Linked DNA regions of Homo sapiens. The protein of the gene in region 1 interacts with the protein of each later gene in a biochemical or structural test. Each region holds a gene or a part of one and is shown in the gene's direction. Other genes may lie near its edges.

Region 1 (16,267 bases):
TTTTCTCATGTTTAGAACTCACACCTTCACTGCACACAGAAGGAGGCTCTCTTTGGGGCACAGGCCCTCCGGAGGGTTGAAGTGTGCCCCCAAAAAACATATGTTCAAGTCCTAATCCCCAGCACCTTGATCTCAGACTTCCAGCCTCCAGAACCATGAGATGACACATTTTTATTTAAGCCGCTCAGTCTGTGGCGCTTTGTTACGGAAGCCCTAGCAAACTAATTCAGGCCCCCGGAGGATCTCCTAGGGAAGAATCGAGCAGCCCAGCTACAGCTTGAGGATATCCAGAAACACCTGTGTGCTCTCCTGTCCCTGATCCTGGGCAGGCTCACACAGGCCTGTTTCTTGCCTGCCATGAAGCTAGGTGAGTGGATCAATAAATGCATCGCAGTGCTGGAGGTGTGACTTCACTCTCAATGGGTGGCCAAACCCACTGAGGTCAAGGCCAGTGAATGAATCATTTGTCCAATGCAGCTCAGTGAGTCAGGCAGGGCCAGGCTGAAAGCCTGAGTTTGGGGCATATTTCCTTTCTCTTTCCTTTGGAATCTAGAAGCAGTCCCCTATAAATTATTATTCCAAGAAACAAACAGCGAAATTGTGCAGCATGCTGCCTTCATACTACGCCTGCTATGTGCTGTGGAGCGATAAGAACAAAAATCTTAGAAAGCGGAGAGTCACAGCCCTTACTGTGTGTCTTTGGACAAGTCAGTTCACCTCTCTGGTCCTCAGTTCCCTCATTTCTTCACATGGAGATAGTAAGGGTACGCATTTCACAGGGTTAATGTCATGATCATACCAGGAAATGAATATAAAGCGCCTAGCAAAATACTGTGTCTCAGTAGAGATTGGCAATTACTAATAAGAACTGCCCCCACATTACTTACAAAGGCAAAATTGGGATGAACAATTTCTGCATCTTCAGCTATGATTCTGAACATAGTGCCAATAATTTTTCCTCCTCCTTTTCCCAGAGATGAGTTTGGAACAGACAAACTGTGATCTCATTTGCTTCCACCAACATTGGTTACTAAGTGTTAGGTTCTGATTATGAAAATGAAAGTATGTCTCAATTCATATTCTGCTTGAAAAAAAAAAGAGTCAACAGAAAGCTGTCACTTCTCACCGCAGCATCAGTTCCCCCTGTGGCGGGGTGTGGCTTGGGGCCATTGTTGGCAGGCTGCGTCCTTGGTTCAGGGATGAAGCTTGTGTGAGTCACGGAGGCCCTGCTGTTCCCGGTCCCTCTCCTGGGCTCTTGGGCTCATCTTCATTTATTTGTCCAACAAGCCTTGCTTTGAGATCTGTACTGGGGACCAAGAGAGACAAGAAATCATGCCCTAGCTTCCAAGCTAGTGGGAGAGATATAAATGATTATTGATAAGCCGGTCGCAGTGGCTCACGCCTGTAATCCCAGCACTTTGGGAGGCCAGGGCAGGTAGATCATGAGGTCAGGAGCTTGAGACCGGCCTGACCAACATGGTGAAACCCTGTCTCTACTAAAAATACAAAAATTAGCCAGGCGTGGTGGCAGGTGCCTGTAATCCCAGCTACTCAGGAGGCTAAGGTAGCAGAATCGCTTGAACCCTGGAGGCGGAGGTTGCAGTGAGCTGAGATCGCGCCACTGTACTCCAGCCTGGGCGATAGAGCGAGACTCCAAATGAAAAAAAAAAAAAAAAAAAAGAAAAGAAAATGAATCACAAAGTGGTCTTTAGGGGTTATTACTATTCTTATTTTATGGGGAGGTGAGGCTTCCGGGGGAAAGTGGTAAGTAACTGAGGCCCACCTCTCAAAGGCATTTCCTCCAGGTATTTCTATCCTACATCAGCCTTTACATCTCCAAGTAGACGTCCCCTCCTCTGGGCATCTTTCCTGGGCTACCCAGTTTCTATCCTGGCACTTAACAAGTCTGTCCCACTACTAGAACGGATGTTAACTGAATGACTGTAGCACTTTAATTCTTCTCCATCTTAAACCTTTTATACTTTACTGCATCTACTGGCTCTAAGATGTCATCAGTTCTGAGGCCCTTTCATTAATCTGTGCACCATTAAGAAAGGAAAATGCTGTCAATTAATGATGACATGCCTCCAATTGTTACACTCTGAGAAATGCTAAAATATGAAAACTGTGCCTTCAACACAATGAATTATATGATGAAAGCAATTACTGCTTTTAAAAACATCGGAAGGGAAGAAGATTTTATAAATATCTATATAATAATAATAACAAAGTTTTCTAAACACTTACTCTGTGTCAGGCATTGTTCTACAGTACTTTTCATCCATGAGCTCCTATCAGGGGTTGGCAAACTTTTCCTGTAAAGGGACTTGGGTAAATATTTGAGGCTTTGTGAGCCATACTGTCTCTGTCACAATATACGCCTCCCATTGTAGTGTGACAGCAGCCACAGATACCATGTAAAGGAACGGGTGTGGCTGTGTTCCAATAAAACTTTATTTATGGACACTGAAGTTTGAATTTTATATGACATTCACATGTCATAAAATGAGATTCTTCTTTTGATTTTTTTCCCCCAACCATTTAAAATATAAAAACCAGTCTTAGTTTGTGGTTTGTACAGAAGGAGGGAGCGAGCTAGGTTTGGTTCACAGGCTCTAGTGTGCCAATCACTGTCTTATATAACCTTCCTATCAGCCCTACAAGATCGATATGATTATTATTCCCGCTTTAAAGATGAGAAAACTGAGTCTCACAGAGGTAAAGTAACTTGCCCAAATACACACAGCTGGTGAGTAAGCAAGCTGGGATTCTAATCCAGGCAGTCTAACTCTGTAACTTGGTTTTAACAACAATGCTGTTACCTACATATGATTGCCTTCTAATCTTCTTTTATTCTTCGTTACAAAAGTTACACATTTAAGTTTAAAAAGTTCAAATCATTCAGAGTCATAAGGAAGAAAATGAGAGGAACTCCACCTTCCAAAGATAAACACTGTTAAGGGTTTGGACACACAGCTCACACAATGCTGACTACGGTTAGAATGTTCTGAACACTGTGTGACTTTGGACAGATTGCCTAACCTCTCTGGGCTCTTGCCTCTCAAATGAGGAGGTTAGACAGGATGACACAGCTCTGTGGGCCCTGCCAGGTCTGAGCATGGAGATCTGTTTGTAAAGATTGTGCAATGGCAGCTAGCTCTGTCCCAACTGCCTGGGTGTAGAGGGTGAAGTCAGCCCCTTGCCAGTCCCTCAAGGTAGGCCTGAGTGGCTACAGAGTCTCTTCAGCAGCGGCACTAGGGCCTGAGTTGGGAGTCTTAGAAGGCTCCAGGCTCCCTGCTGGGCTGACACCAGGGACCACTCCGTCCAGCGAGAAGAACTCCAGGAAGCTGGGAGGCAGAGGCTTCAGCCAGTGCTGCCAGACATGGGGCTGGCAGACGCGGAGGCCTCAACAGACCCAGGCCCAGCTCCCTCTCTCAAGTCAGACAGGCGCTGGGTTTGGATCTGTGTCTGATGATTACCAGCTTTATAACCTTAGGCATGTGACCTTTGGTATGTCTCCTCTCTGAGCCTCTTGCCTTGCCTATAAAATGGGGACAACAAGCACCTCACAGGATCACTGATAGATTCATGGAATGATACCTGTAATGCACCTGGCCCAGAGGTGAGGCCTAATGAGTGTCAGTGACCACCCTCCTCTCTTCTGACACTTTTCAACAGTACCCTTTGAAACAATTCTACCGTTTCCCAAATTGTGAACCTACTATGTGCCAGGCACTGCATCAAAGGTAGTAGGCTGGGGAGTGCAATGTTGAGAAAAACACACCCCTTGCCCTCAAGCTGACCAACTTAGAACCTGGGGAGAGTACGACAAAGATCTAGGTGACTTGTACACAATCAGAATATACGGACAATGTCCTCCAGACGCAGGAGAGGGAGAAGTTGGAGAAACCAGAGGAGTCTTCACCTGGAAAGACTATGGGGGAGCCCAGAGGGGCCACTGTCTGGCAGGGGGAGGGGGAGGAATGTGAGCAAAGATGTGGGAGAGGACAAGAACATTCTAGGAACACAGGCCCACAGAATTTTCCTGGAGCACAAGAGAGAAAGCAAAGAGAGTGGGAAGCTGAGCCATATAGATGGCCGAGGCCCAGTGGCAGTGAGTTTTGGATTTGCTAAGAAATGGGGAGTTATAGAAGGCTATTGAGGGGAGGAACCCCCATACAGCACAGGGGAGACAGGAAAAACGCCGTGGTTTTTGAAAGAGGGAACATGAATGTGGGGCCCTGCTCCCTCTCTTGAGAGCACCCTCTTTGGGTGTCATCCACATCAGGTTCTTATACACTGTTTTACTTGGTCCTAAATGGATGTTATTCCCAGTTTACAAATGGGGAAACAGAGGCTCAGAAACGGTAAGCTGCTTGCCCAAGGTCACCAAGCAGACAGTGAGCGGGGGCCTCTTTCTGACTGTCATCAGCGGGAGCTCAACTCTTTTCTTTTCCTGTGATCCCAAGAGAGATCCAAAGTCGCCTTTGAGAGCAGGATTAGGACAGGGATTGTGAGCTAGGGCCAACCCTGGCTACACTGAGTCTCCCCAGAGTCCCTGGAGGTGAATGTTATTATTCTTCTCTCCATCATGGGAAGGAGGGGGTGGAGCTCAGCACCATGGGGGCACTTACTCAAGGCCACACATTAAAGGTAGAAAATCCAGGCCAGCTTTTTGGGGAGTGTGGAACCCTGAACCCTTCTTTCCGCTACTCCTCACTGTCTCCAGGTTTATTCCTAAGCAGGACTAGGTAGAATTGGGAACAGCCCAGGTCAGAAAGGCCCAATTCTCTCCCCTGAGTCAACATCCACTGATTTATCTGCTTCACTCCCTCTGGCAGCCAGGCCCACAAGGCCAGTCCCTCACTCCTTCTGTGGTTACAGAGACCAGATTATGCTGGGCTCTCTTTGGCTCCATCCTCAGTCAGAAGCAGCATCTCCACTGCCTGGATTGGGGGCCTAGGTGGCTACACGTTTACCACTTGTCGCCGGGCAGGTGACCCACTGGCCCGAGCACTGTGTGTTAGTGGGCCTTAAAGAGGAGCTCTGCCTGAGTTGGGCCCCTGTCCACTGATGTATCTCATAAGCAGATGGCTTGCAGTGACCTTCTCCCTGGTTCTGAGGCAAGTCTCTGAAAGGCACAGGGGCATGATGATATATAAAGAACCATTCTGCTGGGAAGGGGAAACCCTAGAGATACAGTGAATCATAAAGAGCAGGGGTGAGGTAGGGCCTGAGTTCCCTAAACCCCCCATCTCTCACTTGGGCCTCAAACCATCTACAAAGTGGGCCAGTGTAGACGCACTGTACAGACGTGGGTTTGGAGGCTCAGTAGGGGTCGAGACTCACCTCTGACCATCCAGCAGCAAAATGACAGGGTTCAAGTCTACTCTCTGCACTCTTTCCAGCAAGGGAGGAGAGAGAAAAGCAGGAGAGGCCAGCAGACACCTGGCTCTAGGGCCAGACTGCGCCACTACTACTATGATAACGGCATTAAAAAGTTTTCTTTTCTTTTTTTTTTTTGAGACAGAGTCTTGCTCTGTCACCAGGCTGGAGTGCAGTGGTGTGATCTTGGCTCACTGCAACCTCTGCCTCCCGGGTTCAGCCTCAGGCTCTCGAGTAACTGGGATTACAGGCGCCCACCACCACACCCAACTAATTTTTGTATTTTTAGTAGAGACAGGGTTTCACCATGTTGGCCAGGATGGTCTCGATCTCCTGACCTCATGATCCGCCCCCCCACGGCCTCCCGAAGTGCTGGGATTACAGGTGTGAGCCACAGCGCCCAGCTCTTAAAAAGTTTTCTTTTTGAAAAATTTCGGTAGGGGAAGGTATAATAAATGCTCTTGGTGAGAAAAAAAATGGGACAAATCAAGTCGGTATGCAGTGAAAAGTCAGCAGCTGTAACATTCTATGATTCAACGCAAAAACTATGTTGAGTTCCTCAGCTGAATAAGTAGTATAAACAATTTCTTTTTCTTCTATCTCTCCATACAGGGAGGGCGTTGCCCTTATCTGAGGACCTCTTTGCTGTCCTCGACCAATGTTCAAATGAAGGTAGAAGACGCCCTTTTAAAAAAAAAAGCACTCCATGCCCTGAACTTTTCTAGAAGAATCCAGGCAGAACATTTGCGCAGGCGAAAACACACAAGCTAAGCGAGGCAAATGCAGAAGTTGCCACTGGTGATACAGCTCGCACAGCGACGACACAGGGTGGCCAGCGAAATCCCCTCCCCCAGGAGGGGAGGAAACCGCAGAATGTTCCTGACTCGGCACCCGGGCGGGTGGCGCAATGTTTATGTTTGTGTACCCAGCGCGTCGCGTCGCTGCAGCAGGCTCCGCTGTCCAGGGGGCCGTCACTGGGACTCAGGGCACGGAGATCGCTGGGCGGGGCGGGGGTCTTCCCAAGTGTTGCGATCCAGGTCCTGGCAATCCGCCCACAATGGCCCGGGATTGGATTTTGCTTTCGGCCTATAACGGCCGCGACGACAGGGAGCGAGGGTTGTGGCCGGCTTCTGTTCCGGGTTGGAGGCCCCCAGCCCAGCGCTTAGTGGGCGCTCACTGTGTATACTGCCTATTTGTATAATAAAGAAAGGGATGGAGAAGCTCAGTCTGGAGCCAAGGTGACAGAAACGTGTCGGGCGGCCCCTGGGGGGCGCCGTCGAGTCGCGCTGCGGGTCGCCCCTCACCCCTCCAAACGCCAAACCCTGGAATCCACTGCGGGGCCTTGCGACCCCTCACCGGGATTTCAGCCCCCTGACCTGCCTCCCTTGGCTCCAAGTCTTCCGGGGGCCACAAGACTAGGAATAGCATTATTTCCCGGTGGGAGTTTGCTTGCTCACACTTTCATGGCAAATGTAGATATTTTAAAGCCACCTTAAAGAAAAGTCTGGGAAACAGGAAAGCATTGCCCTGAACCTCTCCGCCCCAACTCGCTCGAGTCGGTCTTGGTAGGGACGACTTTTCTATCGGCAGAGTTGTTCATTTTTCTCTAAACTTCATCTTAGGCGCCTATTTGCTGCCCCCACCCCAGTAGTGTGGTTCTGGGCAAGTCAGTCGCTTCGCCTGGGGAACCTCAGTTTCCCCGCCTGTTAGTGATGAGGAAATGAGGAAAAGGGGCACAAGAGTATGCAAAAGCACAGGAAGCCCCTTTCGGTTCAGGTCGGCGGCCGAGGGGCACGGGGAAGGGGACTCGGGGAGGGAGAGAGGGAGGAGCGGCGAGGCCAAGGCAGGTGGCACGTCGCCCGTTCTCCCGGCCGCTCGCATCCCGGAGGTCAGCCTCAGCTGGCAGCGAGCCCTCCTCCTCCCCGCTGGGCCTGGAGCGCGGCGCGGGTCCGGTCCCTGGGGACGCGCCAAGAGCAGGCCGGACAGCAGGGCGGGGGCCGGGCCGCGAGCCAGCGCGCGGCGAGCGGACCCAGCTCCGAGGCTGATGACGTCTCCCCCTCTGGCTCGGCGGCGCCTGGCCTGGCAGGGCGGGTGACGTCACCGCCCCGTCACGTGATCACCATTCAAACAAACACCCCCCCTCCCCCTGCGCGCGGGTCTGGCCCGCCCCGTCCCCCAGAGGCCGCATATAAACGCGCTCCCCGGGCCAGGCTCGCTGCGAAGGACATTTGGGCTGTGTGTGCGACGCGGGTCGGAGGGGCAGTCGGGGGAACCGCGAAGAAGCCGAGGAGCCCGGAGCCCCGCGTGACGCTCCTCTCTCAGTCCAAAAGCGGCTTTTGGTTCGGCGCAGAGAGACCCGGGGGTCTAGCTTTTCCTCGAAAAGCGCCGCCCTGCCCTTGGCCCCGAGAACAGACAAAGAGCACCGCAGGGCCGATCACGCTGGGGGCGCTGAGGCCGGCCATGGTCATGGAAGTGGGCACCCTGGACGCTGGAGGCCTGCGGGCGCTGCTGGGGGAGCGAGCGGCGCAATGCCTGCTGCTGGACTGCCGCTCCTTCTTCGCTTTCAACGCCGGCCACATCGCCGGCTCTGTCAACGTGCGCTTCAGCACCATCGTGCGGCGCCGGGCCAAGGGCGCCATGGGCCTGGAGCACATCGTGCCCAACGCCGAGCTCCGCGGCCGCCTGCTGGCCGGCGCCTACCACGCCGTGGTGTTGCTGGACGAGCGCAGCGCCGCCCTGGACGGCGCCAAGCGCGACGGCACCCTGGCCCTGGCGGCCGGCGCGCTCTGCCGCGAGGCGCGCGCCGCGCAAGTCTTCTTCCTCAAAGGTACGCCCTCGGGGAAGCTCGGGGCGGGCCGCACACCCCTGAGGTTTTGCCCGGTACCCCTGGCTCTCGGCTCCCGGGGGATCGCCCCACCTGCAGCGCGTGGGCGCTGGAGTACATTTATCTCTGGAACTTGTCATTGGCTTTGTTTGGCTCTGGAAACAAAGACTTGCCTGGGCCTTTCCGATGTAAACTTCCAGCCCTTGGTGGGTGGGGGAGTTGTATGAAGGTGCCGTGTCCCGGTGTCACTAATGGGGAAAAAAAATGTCTTTGTATTCCCAGGAGGATACGAAGCGTTTTCGGCTTCCTGCCCGGAGCTGTGCAGCAAACAGTCGACCCCCATGGGGCTCAGCCTTCCCCTGAGTACTAGCGTCCCTGACAGCGCGGAATCTGGGTGCAGTTCCTGCAGTACCCCACTCTACGATCAGGTTAGTAGGTGTCCCTGCCACAGGGAAGAAGTAAGAACTGGCAAAGGCATGGAAGAGTAGTGCCAGGGAGAATATAGAAAGTGACCTGCAGCATTATTTATAACGGAGGGGACACAGGGATATGATTTATTCCACAGTTAAGTGGTCTGACGGAGCCGAGTCTCCAATTGTAGGCTCTACGGAAATGAACTTGCTGGTCCTGCCCAGGCAAATGGGCTTAGTTCCCTATTTATTTATCCTCCAGCAACAGAACTGAGTTCACTCGGTATCTGAAATTGACTTTTCCAGCAGAAAGTTTTTGTGGGTATGGGCACTGGCCTTGGCTTTGAGCAAGCTTGATGAATGTTGGATATTTCTGGATTTCAGGGTGGCCCGGTGGAAATCCTGCCCTTTCTGTACCTGGGCAGTGCGTATCACGCTTCCCGCAAGGACATGCTGGATGCCTTGGGCATCACTGCCTTGATCAACGTCTCAGCCAATTGTCCCAACCATTTTGAGGGTCACTACCAGTACAAGAGCATCCCTGTGGAGGACAACCACAAGGCAGACATCAGCTCCTGGTTCAACGAGGCCATTGACTTCATAGGTAAATGGAATGGATGCCTGGGGCTTTTCTGCCTTTCTCTTCTCATTTTAGCCACTAAGCCCAACCTCTGTGGCAAGAGCTTGAAGTTTTCTGAGCCTTCTTCCACACATTCAGTATCAGTCTGGTGTGGGCAACATTCCTGTAAAATATGAATTTGATTCGATGTCCCACTTTACAGATTTGCAAAGTGGGGCTCACAAAGTTGAATTGACTGGTCTGAGATCTATCTGCTAAGTGGAAATCCCCAGTCTGAGTTTAAATCCTGTGCCATCCTTTGCACAGTGCCCACGTTGCCTCCATGAACAGTATCCATGTGATGGCATGTGGTGATGTTGACCATTTCTAGACAAGACACACATGACCTTTCTCAGATACACTGTACCTGGGCTTGGGGTGGTTCTCCTGAACTCTCAAGTAACCAGCCGCTCCTTTGGTTTTCCAGACTCCATCAAGAATGCTGGAGGAAGGGTGTTTGTCCACTGCCAGGCAGGCATTTCCCGGTCAGCCACCATCTGCCTTGCTTACCTTATGAGGACTAATCGAGTCAAGCTGGACGAGGCCTTTGAGTTTGTGAAGCAGAGGCGAAGCATCATCTCTCCCAACTTCAGCTTCATGGGCCAGCTGCTGCAGTTTGAGTCCCAGGTGCTGGCTCCGCACTGTTCGGCAGAGGCTGGGAGCCCCGCCATGGCTGTGCTCGACCGAGGCACCTCCACCACCACCGTGTTCAACTTCCCCGTCTCCATCCCTGTCCACTCCACGAACAGTGCGCTGAGCTACCTTCAGAGCCCCATTACGACCTCTCCCAGCTGCTGAAAGGCCACGGGAGGTGAGGCTCTTCACATCCCATTGGGACTCCATGCTCCTTGAGAGGAGAAATGCAATAACTCTGGGAGGGGCTCGAGAGGGCTGGTCCTTATTTATTTAACTTCACCCGAGTTCCTCTGGGTTTCTAAGCAGTTATGGTGATGACTTAGCGTCAAGACATTTGCTGAACTCAGCACATTCGGGACCAATATATAGTGGGTACATCAAGTCCATCTGACAAAATGGGGCAGAAGAGAAAGGACTCAGTGTGTGATCCGGTTTCTTTTTGCTCGCCCCTGTTTTTTGTAGAATCTCTTCATGCTTGACATACCTACCAGTATTATTCCCGACGACACATATACATATGAGAATATACCTTATTTATTTTTGTGTAGGTGTCTGCCTTCACAAATGTCATTGTCTACTCCTAGAAGAACCAAATACCTCAATTTTTGTTTTTGAGTACTGTACTATCCTGTAAATATATCTTAAGCAGGTTTGTTTTCAGCACTGATGGAAAATACCAGTGTTGGGTTTTTTTTTAGTTGCCAACAGTTGTATGTTTGCTGATTATTTATGACCTGAAATAATATATTTCTTCTTCTAAGAAGACATTTTGTTACATAAGGATGACTTTTTTATACAATGGAATAAATTATGGCATTTCTATTGAAATTTCAACGCTTTTATTTCTTTGGCAACCACACCCAATCCCTCTCCCACTAGTGAACTAGGGAAGAATTTCGACAAGGGCCTGCAGAATGTGTTGAGATCTGATCCCATGCCCTGTGGTGGCCCGTTGGTCCCATGAAATGGCTGGGTTGCAAGGGAGGAAGACAAGTGAGTATCATGAAACACCGGACGCTACAGCTGAACTCTTAGTATTGGATCAGTGTGTCTGCCCATGCCCATTTTAGCGGCTCTGTAACCTACCATGTCACCCAGGATGCCAAGGTGTCCCCAGAGCCAAAGCTAGGAGGAAATAGCCACTTGTCTGGATTGCCTTCTTCATTTAATACCCTCCTCAGGTTAATATAAAAAGTCGCCTTCCCATCTCTGAGCTGTGCTGGAGTTATGAGGAGACAAAAGTTTTTCCAAACACATGACATAAGGCAGGTGTGTGCTACCTGCCCCTAGAGAAACTCAGCAAGGCCTTTTGCAAATGAGATGCTGAGACCCAGCATGGCTAAGTGGCAGAAATAGGAGAATTGGAATCTACATCTGTTTCAGACTTTCACTTGCCCGTCTCATGGCTTTTTTTTTTTTTTTTTTTTAGACGGAGTCTCACTCTGTCACCCAGGCTGGAGTGTACTGGTGTGAGCTCGGCTCACTGCAACCTCCGCCTGCCAGGTTCAAGCCATTCTCCTGCCTCAGCTTCCTAAGTAGCTGGGATTACGGGTGCGCGTCACCATGCCCGGCTAATTTTTGTATTTTTAGTAGAGATGGGGGTTTCACCATGTTGGCCAGGCTGGTCTCGAACTCCTGACCTATCTTTTTGCTTTTAAAAAGGCTTTTGTTTTTGTGAAAATTTAAATACATTGGCAAAAAAAAAAAAAAAGAAAGAAAAAAAATCCAAGCACTATAAGCAAATACCATGTAAAGAAATCACCCGCAACAGCCCATCCCCAACCTGACCATTGCTAACATTGTGGAGGACATTCACGCTGGCATTTCTGCATATAGACATGGCATTTTTGGTAGTTGCCTCCTTCATGTCACCTGCTGCTCTGATTTCATAGTTTTGTTGAGATAAGCAATTAAACCTGACTTGTTCTAGGATAATATTCTGAATTTGTACTCCTTTGCCAAGCAGGCAAAAAACAGAAGAGATGTAATTGCTACCAATCCATAATCCAGTCTATAATGTTGCGTTAAGAAACAGCGAAGCTCTTGGATTACTGGCCCCTTAGCGCCCCACCCCACTCTTTGTTTCTGGACAAAGTGCTATGGGAAGCAGAAAAGGAAATATCCCATTCGCCTTATCCATGAGCACCCTGTGCTATGGTTCTGGTCCTGTCCTGTTGTTCAAGGTCTTTACGCAGAATCAGTGTCCTTGACTTTGCCCCTGTGGCTCACTGTCTGCCACTTGACTCCCAGGGTCTGAAAGATCCCTGTGTTCTAAGTTCTAAGAACTTACCCTGGGCTGGCAAGCTCATTTCCTCAGCTGGGTTTCCGATTACAAGTATGTTCATGCCTATCAAAACAAATCGTACCCAGTGTTTTTATCAAAGCCTAGAAATTTACTATTGTAAATATCTCTCTCCGTGGAAATGTACCAGCGACATCGAGTCTGTGACAGATGCCATGGCTGACTTCCCCGTGGGCTAGGGCCTTCGCTTTCTGCTTGGCAGGCACTGGCTGAACCAAAATTAATCTCCAGTGTGATCCACGCAGTGGAAAAATACAGCGGCTGCCTAAGGGAGCCGCCAGTGAAAACAAGTCACTCACTTCTCCCGGCTCAAGCCACTCTGCCTCATGCCAGCCCTGAGAGCCAGGAATGATGACCCCTGATCCCCATGTACCGGAGTCACTGTGTTCAGACCCTCCAGAAAAATCTCATATTTGGCCTCAGACTGCTTTCCTTGGGAAAAAATTAATACCTCGTGATGAAAGATACTTAAAGTCTATTAATGTGTTTCCCAGGAAGAGATTGAAATAAGACTTTTAATACTGATAATGTGGCAATGATGGTTGCCAGTTTTAGAGTGAGCACTGTGTGCCAGGTACTGCTAAGGTTAAGTAACCTTTGACAGCAATACCCATTTTACAGAGGACAAAACTGAGGCTCACTTGTGAGAAAGACATGGGCTGATGAATGTAAAGTGCCTGGCACACAGTGGGCCGTGGAGAAATGTTTCCATCCCCTTGTCTCTGTCCTAATGGCTTCTGGCAGTTCTTCTGGCTCAGTTTTCCCACCCCGTAAAATGACCAATTTGCACTGGATCTGAGTACTGTTCTTCCCATCTCTCTAATTCTGGGATGTAGAAAATGCATCAATGCATACATTATGCTTTTCTGTGGTTTCCAGGCACCCATTATTTCATTATAATACCTCTAACACTCCCCCTCCCCCACCTCCACCGCATCCTCTCCTTGGAATTTTGCAAATCGTAGCTAATTTGCTTTGGACTTGCAGCCTCTGGCGTCCCTTTCCCTCCCTCCCCTGGCCCGTCAGAGGATGACATCATTGTGTGTACACCTTTAAGATTATATAAATCTGTGATCCTACAGTGGCCTCCATCCCCATGGTAACGCGGAGGAGTTTCCCTTTTGTGAGGAAAGCTGTCATGTCACTTCCTGCTGCTGACAAATCAGTTTAGGAGATTAAAATAAAGGGGGGCGGGGTGCCTCTGAGAAGTGCTGGCTGCCGTGGTTTCTGGTTGCCATACACAGAGGCAAACAATGCCGCTGCGGCCCCTCCCCGCGCCCGCCGGGTGGATCCAGGTCAACCCGGGCTGTTTTTCTCTGCAGGTTGCTTTCTGGAGAGCAGGTGGGAGGGCTGCTCACCTCGTTTCCAGAGCTCTGCGGGGTGAGCCTGTTTGAGAACAGCCTGTAGGTGCAGACCAGCAGCCCTGCTCCCCTCTGCCCACCGAGGAGGTGTCTTCCACCCCGTGGAGAACAAAGGGTGTGCTCTCTGCTAGCGCCACAGTGGACAAAACTGCTCTGCCAAGGAAGATAAGCTCATAGCCACCTTTTCCTTGAATGTGGCTTTTAAAGCTAGGCAGGAGGCCCACGCATTCATTCACTCATTCGTTCATTCATTCATTCATTCATGTGTTCAACAAATATTGATAAGTATAGTCTCAGGGGATACTTTGGTGCAAGACAAAATTCCTACTTATAAGTAGCTAAAATTACTTTTGCTATTTTCGCTAAACAGCAAAAGTAATTTTACTTTGTCACTTGCCGTCTCATGGCACTATATATGGGTGGGTTATAGAAATAAGATAATCACAAAATAAGATAAGGATGAAGGCTATGAAGGCAGGATAAACTAAGACCTGAATGATATAACCCAGTTGCCCATTTGAGAGGTGAACTGGAAAGAGGGCTCCAAGGCCAGGAGAGCAGCAAAGACCTGATGTTTGAGAGGTATGTTTGTGGACCAGTGGATACAGCGTGTGAATTGGAGTTGGCTAGACCTGCGTTCAAGTCCTGACTCTGCCACCTGTTAGTGGTGTGTAAGCTATCAAACTCTTTTTTTTTTTTTTTTTTGAGATGGACGCTTGCTCTGCCGCTAGGCTGGAGTGCAGTGGCGCAATCTCAGCTCACTGCAACCTCCGACTCCCTGGTTCAAGCGATTCTCCTGACTCAGCCTCCTGAGTAGCTGGGATTACAGGCACGCACCACCACGCCCAGCTAATTTTTGTATTTTTAGTAGAGACAGGGTTTCACCAGGTTGGCCAGGATGGTCTCGATCTCCTGACCTTGTGATCCACCCGCCTGGGCCTCCTAAAGTACTAGGATTACAGGCATGAGCCACGGCGCCCGGCCTGCTATCAAACTCTTTAACCTCTGTTTTCCCAATCTGTAATACGGCCCAGTAATATTCTCTTGTGACTCAGCTGCTCCCTATTCTGTCCCTCAAGCATGAGCGCCCCTCCGGAGTGGCTCTGGAGCGCTCCGGAGGGGCGCTCGTGCTTGAGCGCCCACAAAAGTGGGCTGCCTCACCAAAGTGACACCCTGGGCGCGCATCAGACAACGCTTTACTCTAGGCCATCAGAGCTTTGGAGCAGTGGCCTCTGTTCTAAGCCCATCTAGCCCTGCTCCACTAACCTGGGGCAAGCTGCTTCCCCTTTCGGGGCCTCGTACCCTCATGTGTAAGAAGAACCTGCGGTGAACCTCATCTATTCTCCTCTCCCACCCATCTGCCAGTGCTAAGTCCCTTCCATACCCAAACTTGGGAGGGTCCTGGAATCCCCAGGGTTCCTGAAGGCTGGTTCAGGGAGACAAAGTGGGAAGGAAATAGACACTTTCTGGGAAGAGGCAGTGAGGGATCCTGGACCTTCAGAAGGTCGGTTGGTGTTATGGAGATGTGACTGGTTCTTGCAGGGATGGGTTCCCCTACAAGGGCCGGGGGGGGACTGCATACTTCTGACCCCTGGGCCCTCCTTCCCTCCCAGCCTGCACAGCCCTCTGCAGTGGAGCACACTGCAAAGATGGGATTTAAAAGTTTCACCAAGATTGACACCAATCATTCACTCATCCAATAAACATATTTTAAGTACCCATGGTTTGTAAAACACTCAGTAGATGTGAAAATCATACCACCAAAGGAAATTTTGAGATTCTGTTCCAAATACCTGGGACAAAACTGATAGGTCCAACTAGTTAGTGTCTGTATGACTTTGAGTGGATTATTTCTCCTCTCAAACCCTCAGTTTTGACATCTCTAAAAAGGGAGTTGGACCCTCGTGTGGGGTGGGGCGGAGGAGTGGCGAGCACCCCCCCCCCGCTCTGCTGGCCTCTGCGCGCAAAGCAGCCTCTCCTTCCGCCGGGGCCGCCGGGCCTCATGGAAGCCCCGGAGGGCGGCGGAGGGGGGCCTGCAGCGCGGGGCCCCGAGGGGCAACCGGCGCCCGAAGCCAGGGTGCACTTCCGAGTGGCGAGGTTCATCATGGAGGCAGGTGTCAAGCTAGGGATGAGGTCCATTCCCATTGCCACTGCTTGCACCATTTACCATAAGTTCTTTTGCAATACCAACCTGGACGCTTATGACCCTTACCTGATTGCCGTGTCTTCCATTTACTTGGCCGGCAAAGCGGAAAAGCAGCACCTGCGGACTCATGACATCATCAATGTGTCCAACAGGTACTTTAACCCGAGCGGTGAGCCCCTGGAATTGGAATCCCGCTTCTGGGAGCTCCGGGACAGCATTGTGCAGTGTGAGCTTCTCATGCTGAGAGTTCTGCGCTTCCAGGTCTCCTTCCAGCTTCCACACAAGTACCTGCTCCACTACCTGGTTTCCCTCAAAAACTCTGAACCGCCACAGCTGGCAGCGGACCCCGGTTGCCGTCACTGCCTGGGCCCTGTTGCGGGACAGCTACCACGGGGGTCTGTGCCTCCGTTTCCAGGCCCAGCACATCGCGGTGGCGGTGCTCTACCTGGCCCTGCAGGTCTACGGAGTTGAGGTGCCCGCCGAGGTTAAGGCTGAGAAGCCGTGGTGGCAGGTGTTTGGTGAAGACCTTACCAAGCCAATCATTGATAATATTGTGTCTGATCTCATTCAGATTTATACCATGG
Region 2 (15,391 bases), on another chromosome or scaffold:
TAATCTTTGTATTTTTTTGTAGAGACAGGGTTTTGCCCTGTTGTCCAGGCTGGTCTCAAATTCCTGGCCTCAAGCAATCCACCCACCTGGCGCCTCCCAAAGTGCTGGGATTACAGGCATGAGCCACTATGCTCGGCCTCATCTTTGTTTTAGAATTAACAAAACGGTGGAGAACTTTGGGGTCAGTCCTGGTTTGACCTATACGAGTCACTCAGTCTTTCTGAGCCCCAGTCCCCATCTGTAATACACCCCAGTCCCACAGCCAGTGGGTGGTAGAGTCCCCACTCTGTGCTGCTGACTGTGCTAGGCTATTTCATGGCACTTGCAAAGGCTCAGCACATCATGGGCCCCCAGTGTGTGCTGACTGTATGGCTGAAAGGATTGATGAGACACTAAAGTCCCCCATGAAGGCACAAACCAGAAGGTAAGTACTCGTCCAGTCACAATGAAAGGAATGAAAGCATAAGGACGGTGTGCATGCACGTGTGGCGCCGGGGACCCATGCTCCAGGTTAGCTACTGGAAGACACAGAGCCTAACCCAAGCCAAGACAACTCAGATACACTGACAGGATTTGAGGACCCTGTCTTTCTTCCCTCCACCGAATATCTTCACACACAAGGAGGAGCAGAGAGAGGCAGCAGCAGCCCAGTCAGGGCAGAGGTAGTGCTTCGCTTCAGAGGGAAGGGTTGACTCTTAGCTTGCTTCTCAAAGCTCAAGTCGGGGGCTGGGCATGGTGGCTCACGCCTGTAATATCAGCACTTTGGGAGGCCAAGGCAGGCAGATAACCTGAGGTCAGGAGTTCGAGACCAGCCTGGCCAACGTGGTGAAACCCCATCTCTACTAAAATTGCAAAAATTAGCCTGGCATGGCGGCATGCCCCTGTAATCCCAGCTACTCGGGAGGCTGAGGTGGGAGGATTGCTTGAACCCGGGAGGCAGAGGCTGCAGTGAGCCGAGATCGTGCCACTGTACTCCACCCTCTTGACAGAGCTAGACCTCGTCAAAAAAAAAAAAAAAAAAAAAAAGCTCAAGTTGGGAGAGGAGAGGCTCCTTAAGACAGAATGGGCTGGAGTCCACTCCACTCTGGCAGGGAACATTTGGCCCTAGCTCTGCCAGGGTGGAGGGGGTGTCAGGAGACCTAGGGAATGGTCAATCCCTGCCTGTGGAGGATGGACTGTGCCCAAGGCCTGGGCAGTAGAGACAATGACAATGGCTGCAATGAGCTTTGACAATGGGCAAAAACTCAGAGGAGTGGAAGGAAGATATTTTCTTCCTCTCTGCGCTATTTTGGCTTTGGTGAGGGACCAGAAGGAACTCCAGGGATCTGGAAAAATTCTACTGGAGAAGTTGGTGATTTGTCCTTCTGGCCAGTAGAGGTGGTTCTCAGCTACAACAGCTCCCCTGCCCACCCACCCACAGTGCCCCCACAGCTGAGTTCCTGCGGGCTGGGTGCCAGGCGATGTGCATGCAGCACATGTGAGTCCCAGGGGCATGGGGTCTCCCAGCGCTCAGAGCCTCCCACCACCCTGCACCCAGGGTGCCATGCCCTCTCTCTTTCCCTGCACCCTATGGCTGCTGTTTTCCCTCAATATCCATTCTCTCCTTCTCTATTGTAATATTGGAACACTCCAATTTCTGTCTAGCTGGGCACATGATTGCCCAGAATGAAGCCTACACTTCCCAGTTCCTTGCAGCTGGATGTGGCCACACAACTAAGCTTTGGTCAATGGGATTCAAGCTGAAGTTTGGGCCATGTGTGCTCTTTCTGGCTGTGCCCTTTAAGGAAAGGGGCATGCCATGGCCTACTCTGGCCCCTTTTCCCTGCTGGCAGGAGGCATAACACTTCTCTTGACCCACCTGTCTGGGGCTGCAGATGCCCCTGTCCAGGAGGTTTGGCAGAGCCAGGGGCTGCCCTAGCCATGCTGGGTTGGAGGTCTCAGGGTCCTGGAGAGGCACAGTGCTTGTGACCTCACCTGAGCGATCCCACACAGGGCTCCACGGGCCCCACCTTGCAGTGAGAGGACTGTCGGGCACAGTGAATGGCCCCAAGAAAGGCACTGATGTCCTCTTCAGTAAGTGGGGGGCGGGGGGGTGGTTTACTGGTAAGAGCAGGTATTTACTGGTTAGTGCAGTTCCCTGTGTGGGAATGTGCTACTCATTACTCATTCAGCCCTCCTATCAGCCCGCACAGAAGGCCTCTTTATTTCCATTTTGCACATGAGAAAATTAAGGCTTAGAAAGTGTTGTTAGCCAGCCCACAGGCTTATGGCTGTTAAAGTCTGGATTTGAACCCAGCTCTGGCTTCAAAATTTATGCAGTTGGTCACTCCATTGTTCTCCTTCCCCAGTAACTCCGAAAGATCCATCAGAGTCCTCCAGCTGAACGACTGGATCCCTGCCTGGCTGATCCCATCCACCACTGTATGACTGATCGCTTCATCTATGTTCCCAGTGCTGTCATCTCACCTGAGCTTCCACTTGGATTCTCAGTTGCCTTTGAGCCACCTGACTTGATGGTTAACAGCTGCCTCAGACACAGCTATCTGCTAGTACTGTGTTCCTCCCAGACTACCCTCAGTAGATCTGTGTCCCTCCCCGGGGCCCTGGCATCACCTCCCACTGTTGCCAGGCTTAGCCTTGGCTCTCCTGGGGTGCCCTTCCCTGCCTCGTGCCCTTATTAACTTCTCACAGTTCCCTTCCCCTCCTTGCATGCTTCCATTTTCTGCCCAATGGTTCTTTCCCCCAAGCAGACAGTTCCAGGTTCCTCAACCCTTGGCTCCTGCTGAGAATCTTTCAGCAATCCCCTATTTGCTATGGAAGAGTCCAGCCCCTCCACGGCACGGCCCCTGTGATCAGGCTGCCTTCCTGCCCCCCTCCCCACAAGTTGAAGGACCACTGCTCCACTCTACCCTGGGCTAGGCAGTGCTGGCTTCCCACCAACATCCAGTTTCTCCTTCTTCCTTAGTGACAGACCCCAATTTTTAGCTGCTCTTCCCGATAAAGACCACATTTCTCAGTTTCCCTTGCAGCTAGCTGTGGCCATGTGACAAGGTTCTGGCCAATGAGCTATAAATGAAAACGTTACATAGGCCCTCCAGTAAATCAGCTTAATTGCAAGCTGGCTTGGCTTAGCTTAGAGGAGTGCCCATTTGAGTCTTTCTCTTCCCTGATGCTTGGAGCTCTGATGTACTGGCTGGAGTTCCAGCAGCACTTTTGGTACATGACGTGACCTTGAGGCCAGTGCTAGAATGGTGGAGCTGAACAGCGGAGAAAGCCTGGGTCCCCTATGGCTGCAGAGGTGTCATGACTAGCTGGACTGCCTGTCTTCAGCTTATTTTATGTGAAAAAGAAATGAACATGCCTTGCTCAAGCCACTGTCCTTTTGGACATTCTCTTGCATGCAAGCAATCCTAATCCTACCTGATACAACCATACAGCACAGATCATGTCTCCTTTCCTATGCTTTTGTGTGTGTATTCCTTCTCCCTGAAATGCCTTTCATTCCTTTCTTGGCTGTTGAAATCCTATTTACCTTTCAGGGCACAATTTTAATAACTCTTCTTCCACAAAACCTTCACCCATTCCCTGGGCATAACAACCCCTCGACACCGCTGGTTTTCCCAGCCCTCAGTTTGGCCCTCTTGTAGCACTTACCTAAATTCCAGGGCATGCACAAAGTGGCTGAAGGATGAGGATTGGGTTTCCTTCAATCTCTGGTTACCCAGAACTGGGACAGTGCTTGGCACATAGCAGGCACTAAATCAATTCCTGTTGAACACACATGCATGCACACATGCACACGCATGCACACGCATACACACACCCCACACAGGGCAGGCACCACCAGGGCAGGTACCAGGTGTCTTTCCAGGACAGACACCCTGACAGTTGTGTATGGGGTGAGGGGGCACGGGAAAAAGGAAAACAAGAAACCAAAAGAAGAGAGGGCACACCTTTCCCTTGACCCTTCCCTCACGCACAGGCATGAGCAGCCACGCCAGGCCTGGAAGCTGTGCCTCTCTCCCCCAGCTCCCCTCTCTGGCAGGCTCCCCATTCATGCCCAGTGGGCGCTCCCGTGCTGGCTGCTGGCGGGGAGAACCAGGAGGGAGGAAGGCTGTGGAGGCGCTCGGCAGAATCAGGACCCAGGAGGACCGCAGCAGAGCGGAAGTGACAGCACAGACCTGTTAATAACTCTGGGCTGGTACTGTGCTACAGGCTGGCCTCCCTCTCCTCCCTCCCACCCCCAAGGCCCCGTGGGGGCTGCAGCTATTGGTCCAGAGGGCTTGTTGGAGTTGTTGGGTGCTCGAGAGGCAGGCCGACTTGGTGGCTGAGGGCGGCGCCTAGGACACAGGTGCAGTCCTGGCGGAGCGTTTGTGGCCCATTCCCTCCAGGGCACCAGGCCTGTGGTCAGTTCCGCTGCCGGCCACCGGGTGGCAGTGCTGGTCAAGCCCTCCAGCCTCCAGAGCCGGTCTTCCCAGGCGGCGTGGATGCTCCCTGACTCACCAGCTCCGCCAGAACGACATTGTTAGGGCTGGAAGGGCTTAGCCAACATAACACGAAGACGCAATTTATGTATGATTTGAGGGTCCGATTGGAAGGGTTTTTTTGTACATCTACACACCTGTGTGACCACGATCAAGGTGCAGGACGTTTCCAGCTCCCCAGAGGCTTCCCGTGTCCCTGCCGATCACTACCTCCCAAAGGCAGCCTTGTCCTGCTTCGAACACCACGGATGGGTTTTGCCTGAACTTCCTATGAATGGCAGCACGCGGTGCTCTTTGGGTCTTCCCTTACATCAGCCTCACGGCTGTGAGGTTTATCCTCGTCGTTGCAGGTAGCAGTAATTTGTTGTCATTGGCACAGTATTCCATGGCGCGCATATGTGGCAGTTTAGGTCCTGCTGATGGTTGTGGGAAGCTGGGCCGGGAGCAGCCTCTGAGACAGAGATCAGGGACAGGGCTGCTTAGGCGGCAGACCCGGGGAAGCATAGGCCTGGACTGGGTGTGGGTGGGACACTGGCCTTGGCCTCCGGGGAATGGGCCCTGCATTCCCGGGGATCTGAGCAGTTCAGCTCCCCCAGCTGAGTGTGAGGTGGACAGCAGTGGACATTCGCTTGTTTCCAGGCTGGGGCTGTTGTGCAGAGCGCTGCTGTGGGCCAGCACACTTGGTTCACGGGGGTGGCATGGCTGGGCCATGAGGCTGGCAGAGGGGTGCCTTGTGCAAAAGCTCCCAACGCTGCCCTGTTTGGCCCCTGCGCGCCCTGGCCGACCGCCCACAGCGCCCGCGGCCCTGATGTTCTGGGGCTGGTTTCTAGGCAGGGCAGCCCCTGCCCTCTGAGATTTTGGCCCGGCGGGGAACGGATGAGGGCTGGCAAGTGTCATAGGTAGGCGTCCCTGGGCCTTAATGGCAGGGCCCACGAGGGACCGGGCTGCCTGACAGTGCCCCAGGTTGGGCTGGGCTCCCGGTCCCGCTGGGCCGCACGCTGGAGTGGGCGCGGGGCAGCAGTGGCTTCCTCGTGTGCCAGGCTCTTCCCGGAGCGCGGGTTGAGTCTTGAGAGATAACCTGCGTGAAGACATGTGTAGTGATGGGGCTCTGGGCAAGAGAGGCCGACTGCAACAGAGGGGTCCCAGTGAGGCTACCACCCACCCTGGGAGACGGGTGTGTGGGAGCTGCGGTATAGTGAGCCTCGGCGCCGCTCACCTCCCTCTGGGGCGCCCCTCCCGGCTTTGGGGGCTCCCGGGCCCTCGGCGCCTCCTGCAGTACTGACCGCCGCCAGCAGGGGCCGCCTCAGTCTCTGCACAGCGGAGACCGCCCCGCGCTTGAGGGCACGGGCCCGCCCCTCTCAGAGCAAAGGTTTGCAGCGGGGCTGGCGGGTGACATCTACTGCGGGGCAGCCTCAACCTGACACTCAGCAGCAAGTTAGGCCTATCTACAAATCTCCTGCTCTGTGCCCGCGCAGTCCAGTGGAGGAGATATTCCTAATTAGGGGGCACTTCCAAGGGGCGGAGTCTCCGCGGCGAGTGGCCGTGGAGGGGCGCAAGGCAGACGGTCTCCAGCCACGATACCTGGGCCAATCCCAGCCTGTCACGTCATGCCTAGTGAGCTGAACAAGCTGCGTAACTGTCGTGTGCCTCAGTTTCCCCACGTGTATAATGGAAATGATTACAATAAACAGGACCTTTTTGAGGAGTTGCCATGAGGACTGTCAGGTAAGTTCTGGACTTAGAACGGTAGCATTCCGGGCCAGGAGCGGTGGCTCACGCCTGTAATCCCAGCACTTTGGGAGGCCGAGGCGGGTGGATCACGAGGTCAGTAGATCGAGACCATCCTGGCCAACATGGTGAAACCTCATCTCTACTAAAAATACAAAAATTAACTGGGCATCATGGAGAGCGCCACAGTCCCAGCTACTTGGGAGGCTGAGGCAGGAGAGTTGCTTGAACCTGGGAGGCAGAGGTTGCAGTGAGCCGAGATCGTGCCACTGCACTCCAGTCTGGGCCACAGAGCGAGACTCCCTCTCAAAAACAACAACAACAACAACAAAAACGGTAGCATTCTGCAGGGGAGGAAAAGTACAAAAGTAAAATCTTTCCCCACCCATTGCTCGGTTCATGGCTAGGACACCTATAACAAAAGACAGGTCAACAAGAGAAAAGCACACAAATTTATTTCATGTAAATTTTACATGACACAGGGGCCTTTGGAAATGAAGACCCAAAGAAATGGGGACATGTATTTTTATGCGTTGGTTTCATGAAGAGTGGGCATCGTGGAGAAGTGATTGGCTAAAGGGGGAAGGGGTAATAAACCGGGGAGAGTCGGCCAGCCTGTTCAGATTCTTCTCTCTGTCCCTGTGTCTTCAGAGGTAAGGATGGGTCTTATGGCCTCATGGCCCTACTTCAGGGGATTCGGGCAAAGGGAAGGTGAGCGAGGCCTTCCTGCTTCTGCTGTTTTCTTAAATGCCAAAGTGCCATATTTTGGGGTGGCATGTCCTGAACCCTGGCAGTTTGTTCAATAAACAAACACAGAGTGTGTGGCGGGTATGCCTGTACCCTGGACGGGAGGCTTTAGGCAGGTTTTTTAGCTCCTCAGAATGACCTCCTCTGCCCCCCAGCTGCCTCATGGCCCAAGGTCCCACTGATGCAACTATACCACCCCAGCCTGCTGGCTTTGGGTGGCCTGAGGGCCATAGCTTGCCAGGTAATTTTCCAGACAGTCTGAGGCTCAGAGTTGACTTCCCTAATAAGATGCCATACATACCTCTCATGAGAGTGTGATTTATTAACAAGATGCATGGCTGCAGCGCTCTGGGGAACCACCCAAGGCAGCCTGCACTAAGGTGGAGACGTACCTGGCACTAGCCATCCCTTAGCCGAGCAGTCACTGATTGTGGCCTTGATCTGGGGTCTTGGGAGGGGCTTAGCCCACAGGTTGAGGGTCAGGGCACTCACAAGGCTCCAAACCCACCAGGCCCTTGCCCCCGAAAGTGGGGTCCACTTGGCCAGGTGCGGTGGCTCATGCCTGTAATCTCAGCACCTGGGGATGCCAAGATGGGGGGACTGCTTGAGGCCAGAAGTTTGAGACCAGCCTGGGCCACATAGCTAGACCTGTCTTCACAATATCAGAAATATTAGCTGAGCATGGTGGAATGCACCTGTGGTCCCAGCTACTCAGGAGGCTGAGGTGGGAGGATCAATTGAGCTTGGGAGTTTGAGGTTGTAGTGAGCCATGATCACACCACTGCACTCTAGCCTGAATGACAGTGAGACCCTGTCTCAAAAAAAAAAGTCGGGTCCACTTATCTCAGGTAGGGCCTCAGGCTTTCTGAGTCAATCTGCATTTTAACAAGATCCCCAGGAGATTTGAGAGTATGTTGCAATGTGAGTGAGGAGCACTAGGTTAGAGTAAGCCACCTTCCCTCCATGATCCTCAGTTTTCCTAACCGAAATAAATATTGACGGGCTAGAATACCTTTGGCTTCTTTTCCAGTGCTAACACATTGGGAGCTAGACCTTTGCAGTGACTGTCTGTAGGGCTATTTGCATTTTGTGGCAGTTCTGGGAAAGTGGAATTCCCAGAAATTCCAGTGAGAAAGGCTGGAGGGACCATCAGCTCCTCTCCTCTTCTGTCTGCTTTACCCCTCCTTTCTGTTGGAGGTGCACAATTTCCCAGGTCCTGGGATACAGCAAATGCAATTCAATCTGCTTCAGCAACACAGATTGAGTTCCTTCTGTGTGCCAGGGTCTGCTGCAGTGAATCTCCATCCTGGCTGTACATTAGAATCATCTGCGTTGCTCTGTAAACTCCTGATGCCTGGGTTCCACCCTAGGCCAGTGGAACCGGAGTCTTTGGGGGCGGGGCTGGACATAGGTATTTATTAACATGCTTGGACCATTACAATGCACAGCCAGCTTGAGATTGGTCAGAAGTGAGAAAGAAGGCTACCGTAAGACCTACCCAGGCCAGACCCCCATTCCTGTTTCCTTCTCTTAGGCCGGCCAGCTCCAGCAGGTCAGTCTGCGAGTCAGGAGAAATCACTGGGAAATCCCCTGGATATAGTAACACATGACAGCACCATTGAATTAATCATCAACTTTGTAACGTGATCTCTGGCCCATAAAAAGCAGACCTGCTGAATCTTTGGTAACCTGTCCACTGGCCTTCTCCAGGCAGTTCCTTCTAGACCTGGGGACCTGTGCCCGAGGACCTTAGACTGATGGGTGCCCAGCTCTGCTTCGAGGCCAGTAAGTAGACCTCCTGCAAGCCTGGAGCTTGGTCTCTGGACTGGGGGTACAGGTAGCAGAGGGTGCTCTGTGTCATTGCTGGAGTAGAGATGTGGTCAGTGTAAAGTTTAGGGGGCTGGTGGGGTCCCAGTTCTGCCAAGTTGAGCTATGGGACCTTGGGTAAGTCACTTTGTCCCTGGGCCTCAGTTTCTACATCTCCAGGCCAGGGACGATGCCTGCTGGCTTACAGGGATCTTTATAAAATCAAACGCACAAATCAAAAGAGTGATAGGCACAAAGGTTCTCTGCAAGCCTCACCTGAGGCCACAGGTGTCCCGTAGTGGAAGAGCCATATGTGGGGGAGATAGAGGACCTGGTCTTTTTTTTTTTTTTTTTTTTTTTGAGACGGAGTCTCGCTCTGTTGCCCAGGCTGGAGTGCAGTGGCGTGATCTCAGCTCACTGCAAGCTCTGCCTCCTGGGTTCACGCCATTCTCCTGCCTCAGCCTCCCGAGTAGCTGGGACTACAGGCGCCCGCCACCACACCCGGCTAATTTTGTTTTGTATTTTTAGTACAGAAGGGGTTTCACCATGTTAGCCAGGTTGGTCGCGATCTCCTGACCTCGTGATCCACCCGCCTCGGCCTCCCAAAGTGCTGGGATTACAGGCGTGAGCCACCGCACCCGGCCTTGAGGACCTGGTCTTTCAGCACCAGCTATTGGGGTTGTGCATCTCTGGACCTACCCTCCCAGGTAAAGAGCTGGGAGCCTGGGCTCAGGGTCCTCTGTCCCCTGGTGGGCACCATGGGCTCACAGACTAGTAGTTGGCTGTGCCAAGAGCCACTGCTGCTGTCACAGTAATGGTGTTTGGCAGGGAAATGATGGGCCTTAAAGGAGGTGGCATGAGAGTGAAGCAGCCAGGAGCAGCGCTGGGATCCCCCACTTTCTGGCTGCAAAAACACAGATGACTAGCACAGCCTTCTCAAGCTCTGAGGGCTTCCCCGAGGCGGGATGAGGAGAAAAAGAGGCTGCAAAGTGCTTATGGGTGCCTGACACCCTGAAAGGCTTGACACCTGGAGGAGTGGTGAGGATGGAGATCCCTAGAGGCTCTTGCTGAGCAAGGGGCCGCCCCTGCCCCACTCAGATTCCAAGATCTTAGAGAATCTGGAATCTGACTCTACCTGTCCTGGAGTAGAGACACCCCAGAGGCCCTGCTTAGCCCGCAGGCAGTCCACCCCCTCAGCAGTGGGGACCCCGGGGCAGGTGGAGTAATTGGAGCGATCGCCCATGGGCAGGGCACTCAGCTTCTCTGAGCTCAGGGTCCTGCCTGCAAACAGGACCCATAGAAAGAGCGGCTGCCTCTAGGTGTGAGGGTGCTTGGGCACCAGGATGATCTGAACCCTGTGCCAGCCCAGCCACTGGGGACAGGTCTGCTTGGAGAGCCACATGTGGCCTATGCCCACCTCTGCCACTCCCCACCCTGGGAGTGGGGTGTCCCGGGCTGCCTGGGTCAAAGTGTGGGAGGACCCCTGCAGGCCTCGTGGGAGGAGGCAGGTGGAGTGGAGGTGGTGATCACACCCGTCAGGCCACCCCGACCCTGCTCCAGACCCAGGCACAGAGCCCTGTATGAAGTCGGTGGACACGGTCCTGTGGGCCCTTGCCAGGCTGGTGGGTCGGGGGTGGGTTTCGGCCCCACTCAGCCTTGGTGGTGCACAGTGAATAGCTGACATGACCATGCAGACAGACCAAGAGTCTTCATAGATGAGAGGCTGTGCCCTAAGGGACCTTTTGCTGCCCTGCCAGGTCCCAGGGGGCTGCCCGAGGTAGGGGGTGGAGCCTGAGTGAGCAGCACAGAGGAGGCTGCTTAGATGCCCCGGCTGCGGAATGACCTGTGCAGCCACCACGTCCCCTCGGCACCCACCAGCCCTGGTGACATGAGGACTTAGCTCCATACAGGGCTGCTGAGAAGGCTCCTGAAGCAGGGATCGGGGAGCTTTGCAAACTGTCAAATTATCCTCCAGGGCAAGGCCTGCTTCTCAAGGGCTCCCAGGGCCTCATGCACCCTCAAGGCCATTCCGGGGGAGTTCCCCTCCTCCCTGGACTGCCTCCAGCCAGCCAGTTCCCTACTCCCTCCAGGAAGTGGATGGAGGAGTGAGGTCACCTGCCGTCCTCCACCCCTCCTTGCCCCCAGAGCCAGTCCTGCATGGAGCCAGCCTCTGTCCCGGGCACCTGCCTAGAGGGTAGGGTGGAAACTCCATCCCCAATGAGCACGGGCTCATCTCTGCTGGTTCCCGTCTAGGCCCATGGTGCTGAGCATGACAGGGCTCCAGCTCCCCTGACCCCAGGGGTTCCCCTTTCTCTGTAGGGGCTGCACTGGGTGAGGCTGGGAGAACTCCTCATCAACCCTAGTTCTGCCCCTGATTGCTGTGGGGTGGGGCTAGCCACTTGCCCACTGTCTGCCTCTTAGGATGGCAGCAGGATTGGGTGTGGCAGTTTGTAGAGAGGGCTCGGATGCCGGCCACCATCTCCGGCACCGCCCCTCGTCCAGGGCCATTGCTCCAGCCTCTTGCCAAGCCCACTCCAGGGCTTCTCTCCAGTTCCCACCTCAGGGATGGGCAGTGACCCAGCCAAAGGGCTGGCCTCTGCCCTCCTAGATTGTGGCTGGTTGTGCCAAGAGGCCCCACTTGCCCTGTCACCCCCAGCCCCATGCCTGGCCAGGTAGGCAGTGAACAAGACTCCAGACAGGTGTCCTGAGACTCCTGGCCTTGCTGGACATGCACTTCACTGCCGTTTGTAGGTGAGGAGGCTGGGCCCTGGAGGACAGTGACCTGCCTGGGCCAGCAGCAGGGCAGGCCTGGAATGGGGGTGTTAGCCATGGCCCAGCTGGTATCCCACTGCCCTCCATGGAGCAGCCTCAACCATGGGCACAAGGTCAGGTTCACTGATGTCAGGGACCCCAGCATGGCTCCGGCTCTCCATGTGTGCTGGCTCTGGGACTTCTCCTTGCCTAGGTGCAGCCTTGAGGCACAGGGAGCTGGGCAGGCCTGCTGGGATTCGCAGGAAGGGATGAGTGCATCATGGGAAGGCACGGGCGGGGCGCAGGCGAGGGGTGAATGCGGATACACAGGGCTCTGTGAGAGTCCCAAGGCCACGGTGAGCACTGGTCTTTAATGCTGGGGAAAGGTCACTGCAGGTAGGCTTACCTTTGGCCTGTGGAAGTCAGGGACAGAGTCACTGTCACCGCAAACGTGTCCTGGTGCCTGACCAGATGGAGCCTCCTGGCCCTGGGCTCTGCTAGAGGGTGTAAACCTGTGTGTAGTCAGAGTGCCTGCCTTGCCAGGGGAGTGTGACCTGATCTGGGAGGGGAGTGGCCTTGCTCCTTAGGATGGGGTCTGGCTTAAGTTCTGATTGAATTCGCCTTTTATTTTCAACAGCAAACAGCCAGCCAGCCTCCCTCCCCCAGCCCAGAAAGAGCAGGACCAGGAGGGGAGGGGCAAGGCCGGCTAAGGCAGTTCTGGGGTAGGAAGCCCCACCAGCTTCCTGCAGGCTGAGTGGAGAGGAAGGGCTGCTCAGTGAGGTGCTTTCCCCTTCTGACTGCCAGGCAGAGTCCTGTGGGAAGTCCCCTGGTTTCAGAGCCCATGCCAGAGCCAGGCTGGACCCCACCCAGGATTCTGAGGGGCTAACCTGGGACTTCCTCTCCAGCCTGCACCCATACTCTGTGGGGAGCAGCCAAGCCCCTTTCTCTCCCAGGACAAGGATGTCACCATTGCTGGGGGCCATGGTCTTCACAAGTGATGCAGTTCCCCATGGGAAAACAAGAGAGACAAGCAGAGAGGGAATAGCAGACAGCCTCCTGGAGCAGACCACAGTCAGCAAATCTGTCTGTCTCCTCTTCCGTCATTTTTAGGTGCATATGGAATAAATGTATGGGCTGGGCGCAGTGGCTCATGCCTGTAATCCTAGCGCTTTGGGAGGCAGAGGCAGGAGGATCACTTGAGGCCAAGAGTTCAAGACCAGCCTGGGCAACACAGCAAGAACTCATCTCTGAAAACAAAACAAAACAAAACAAACAAAAAAACCGTGTATAACAAACATATAGATATTTATGCCTGACTAACCCTACTCTTTCTCTTGAACAATAATAACCATTACTAGATTGGTCGCAGGAAGAGTACAAAGAGACATCAGTTCCTATAGTTTTCATAACAACCCTGCAGGAACCGAGAGAGGTGGAAATGGTCCCTAGGGGAAGGTCAAGGTGCTCCCAGGTGTGAGGGACTCTGGGATACTGGGGGCTCTCTGGGGAGCTGGTGGGTCCAGACCCGGTTAGCACTGACACTCCCCATCCTCAACCCACAGACGCCAAGGCGCCCCGAGAGGCACTTCGCTTCCATGCCGAGGCCAAGGGCGCACAGGTGCGTCTGGACACGCGTGGCTGCATCGCGCACAGGCGCACCACGTTCCACGACGGCATCGTGTTCAGCCAGCGGCCGGTGCGCCTGGGCGAGCGTGTGGCGCTGCGAGTGCTGCGGGAGGAGAGCGGCTGGTGCGGCGGCCTCCGCGTGGGCTTCACGCGCCTGGACCCCGCGTGCGTGTCCGTGCCCAGCCTGCCGCCCTTCCTGTGCCCCGACCTGGAGGAGCAGAGCCCGACGTGGGCGGCCGTGCTGCCTGAGGGCTGCGCGCTCACTGGGGACTTGGTCCGCTTCTGGGTGGACCGCCGCGGCTGCCTCTTCGCCAAGGTCAACGCCGGCTGCCGGCTCCTGCTGCGTGAGGGCGTGCCCGTCGGCGCCCCGCTCTGGGCCGTGATGGACGTGTATGGGACCACTAAGGCCATCGAGCTGCTGGGTGAGGCGACCATGGGGACCCCGCAGGGGAGGTGGGGAGATGGGGGCTCCAGTGGCACCCCACACCGATCCAGAGCCACAGGAAGAACGTTCACATTCAGTTATTCCATCAGCCCCTGCCCAGTGTTAGCTGTGAAGATGGGCACTGGAGACGCCAGATAGACAAGGCTCAGTCGTAGGGAGGGCAGTCTTGTCCCTAAAGAATGATAAGCAGATAGGACCAGCACTCACACCATCTGTTACTCAAACACCTGTTAGAGTGTCCATCTCCTTTTACAAAGGAAGAAACATTTGGGCTGGCTTTGCAGCCTAAATAGGAGTTCACTAGATACAAAGGTGGCAAGCAAAGGGAACACACAGGTGAGGCTAGAGGTGCGCATGGAGAGTGCCTGCAGGGAGAAAGCTGAGCCTCTCAGTCAGTGGGGGGGAAAAGAGAGCCATCCCTTTAGCCACCCCAGAAGAAGGTGGATTTCAGGAGAGCACAGAGAGGCAGTAATACCCATAACAAGAAATATTGGCATTCCTGGGCCGGGTGGTGGTCCACTCCCCGCCTCCTGCCAGCAAATTTGTTAAAACCATTTGTCACAGCTGCCAGCGCCTCACACCTGAAGCACCTGATTTGCTGGGTCTGGAGTGGAGCCCTGAACCTGTGTTTGTCCAGGCTCTTGGGAGATGTTGATGCCCATCTGGGTTGGGAATGTGGCTCGGCCGAGGGTCTCCACTCAGGCAGCGGCTGGAGGGCAAAGAAGAGGGGCCTGAAGGAAGGTGGCTCAGGAGGAGGAATCTCCAGCCCCAAGGATTCTCGGATTCTCAGCTGGGTCAAGCTGGGGAAGGGATGGCCAGGACAGGGTCTTAAAATTTGGGGATGGGGGCTCAGCATTGCAACCCAGGAAAGAAAGGAGACCGGACACTTTGCTGCGGGGCCAGGGGCGGGGATGGGGGGGCACCTGGGCTTGCCGTCCTGGACCTGAGTTTCTCTCTCTGCCTCAGATCCCACAGCCAGCCGGCTCCCAACACCCATGCCATGGGACCTCAGCAACAAGGCTGTGCCTGAGCCCAAAGGTGAGTGCCTTCCCAAGAATCAGGGACTCCCCGGGAATCCAGCACCTGGGAGTGGAGGGAGAAGCCCCACGTCCTACTGGTTGTTCATTCAAGTCTCTCACAGGCTTTGGGCCAAAAGATTTGGCTCTGCCTACTGGAAACCTAAAAGCAACCTGGCATCTCTGCCTTCGAGAGCATTTGCCTACTCTGTGAGTTATAAGAGCACTTTTATGAACAGACAGTGTTATTTTGTTCTTGCTTTAAAAAATCATCCACATTCATTGTAAATGCTTTGCCAATGGAAATAAAGATGAAAGGATAGGTGGGGTGCAGTGGCTCACACCTGTAATCCCTATACTTTGGGAGGCCGAGGCAGGAGGATCGCTTGGGCCCAGGAGTTTGAGACCAGCCTGGGCAACATGGCGAAACCCTGTCTCTACAAAAAGTACAAAAATTAGCTGAGTGTGGTGGTGCATGTCTGTGGCCCCAGCTACTCGGGAGGCTGAGGTGGAAGGATGGCTTGAGCCCAGCTGGCTGAGGCTGCAGTGAGCTGTGATCACACCACTGCACTCCAGCCTGGATGACAGAGTGAGACTGTCTCTAAAAAATAAAAAAGATTAAAGGATAAAGAGGAAAGTTAAAAAAAAAGCACCCATTACCTCTTGGGTGGATTTCCTCCCAGTATTTTCGGTCATCGATATAGACGTGTGTATATAGGGACTTGTCTGTGCTGCGTTTTCCTTCTCTCTAAATTGGAATTGGAATATATGTATATAAAAAATGGTTT

Evidence for each region.
Region 2: of the proteins of DUSP1 (region 1) and NEURL3, one has a biochemical effect on the other in vitro, tested with the Homo sapiens proteins (one study listed by BioGRID).

The regions. Positions count from the first base shown.
Region 1 is NC_000005.10:172,762,531-172,778,797, reverse strand, and holds DUSP1 (dual specificity protein phosphatase 1), read left to right. Parts: upstream 1-7,602; 5' UTR 7,603-7,845; coding exon 7,846-8,212; intron 8,213-8,491; coding exon 8,492-8,637; intron 8,638-9,003; coding exon 9,004-9,223; intron 9,224-9,665; coding exon 9,666-10,036; 3' UTR 10,037-10,702; downstream 10,703-16,267. UniProt on the Homo sapiens protein: Dual specificity phosphatase that dephosphorylates MAP kinase MAPK1/ERK2 on both 'Thr-183' and 'Tyr-185', regulating its activity during the meiotic cell cycle.
Region 2 is NC_000002.12:96,498,612-96,514,002, reverse strand, and holds the start of NEURL3 (E3 ubiquitin-protein ligase NEURL3), read left to right. Parts: upstream 1-8,645; 5' UTR 8,646-8,716; coding exon 8,717-8,744; intron 8,745-9,293; exon of another isoform or gene 9,294-9,472; intron 9,473-13,078; coding exon 13,079-13,564; intron 13,565-14,553; coding exon 14,554-14,625; intron 14,626-14,728; coding exon of another isoform or gene 14,729-14,813; intron 14,814-15,391.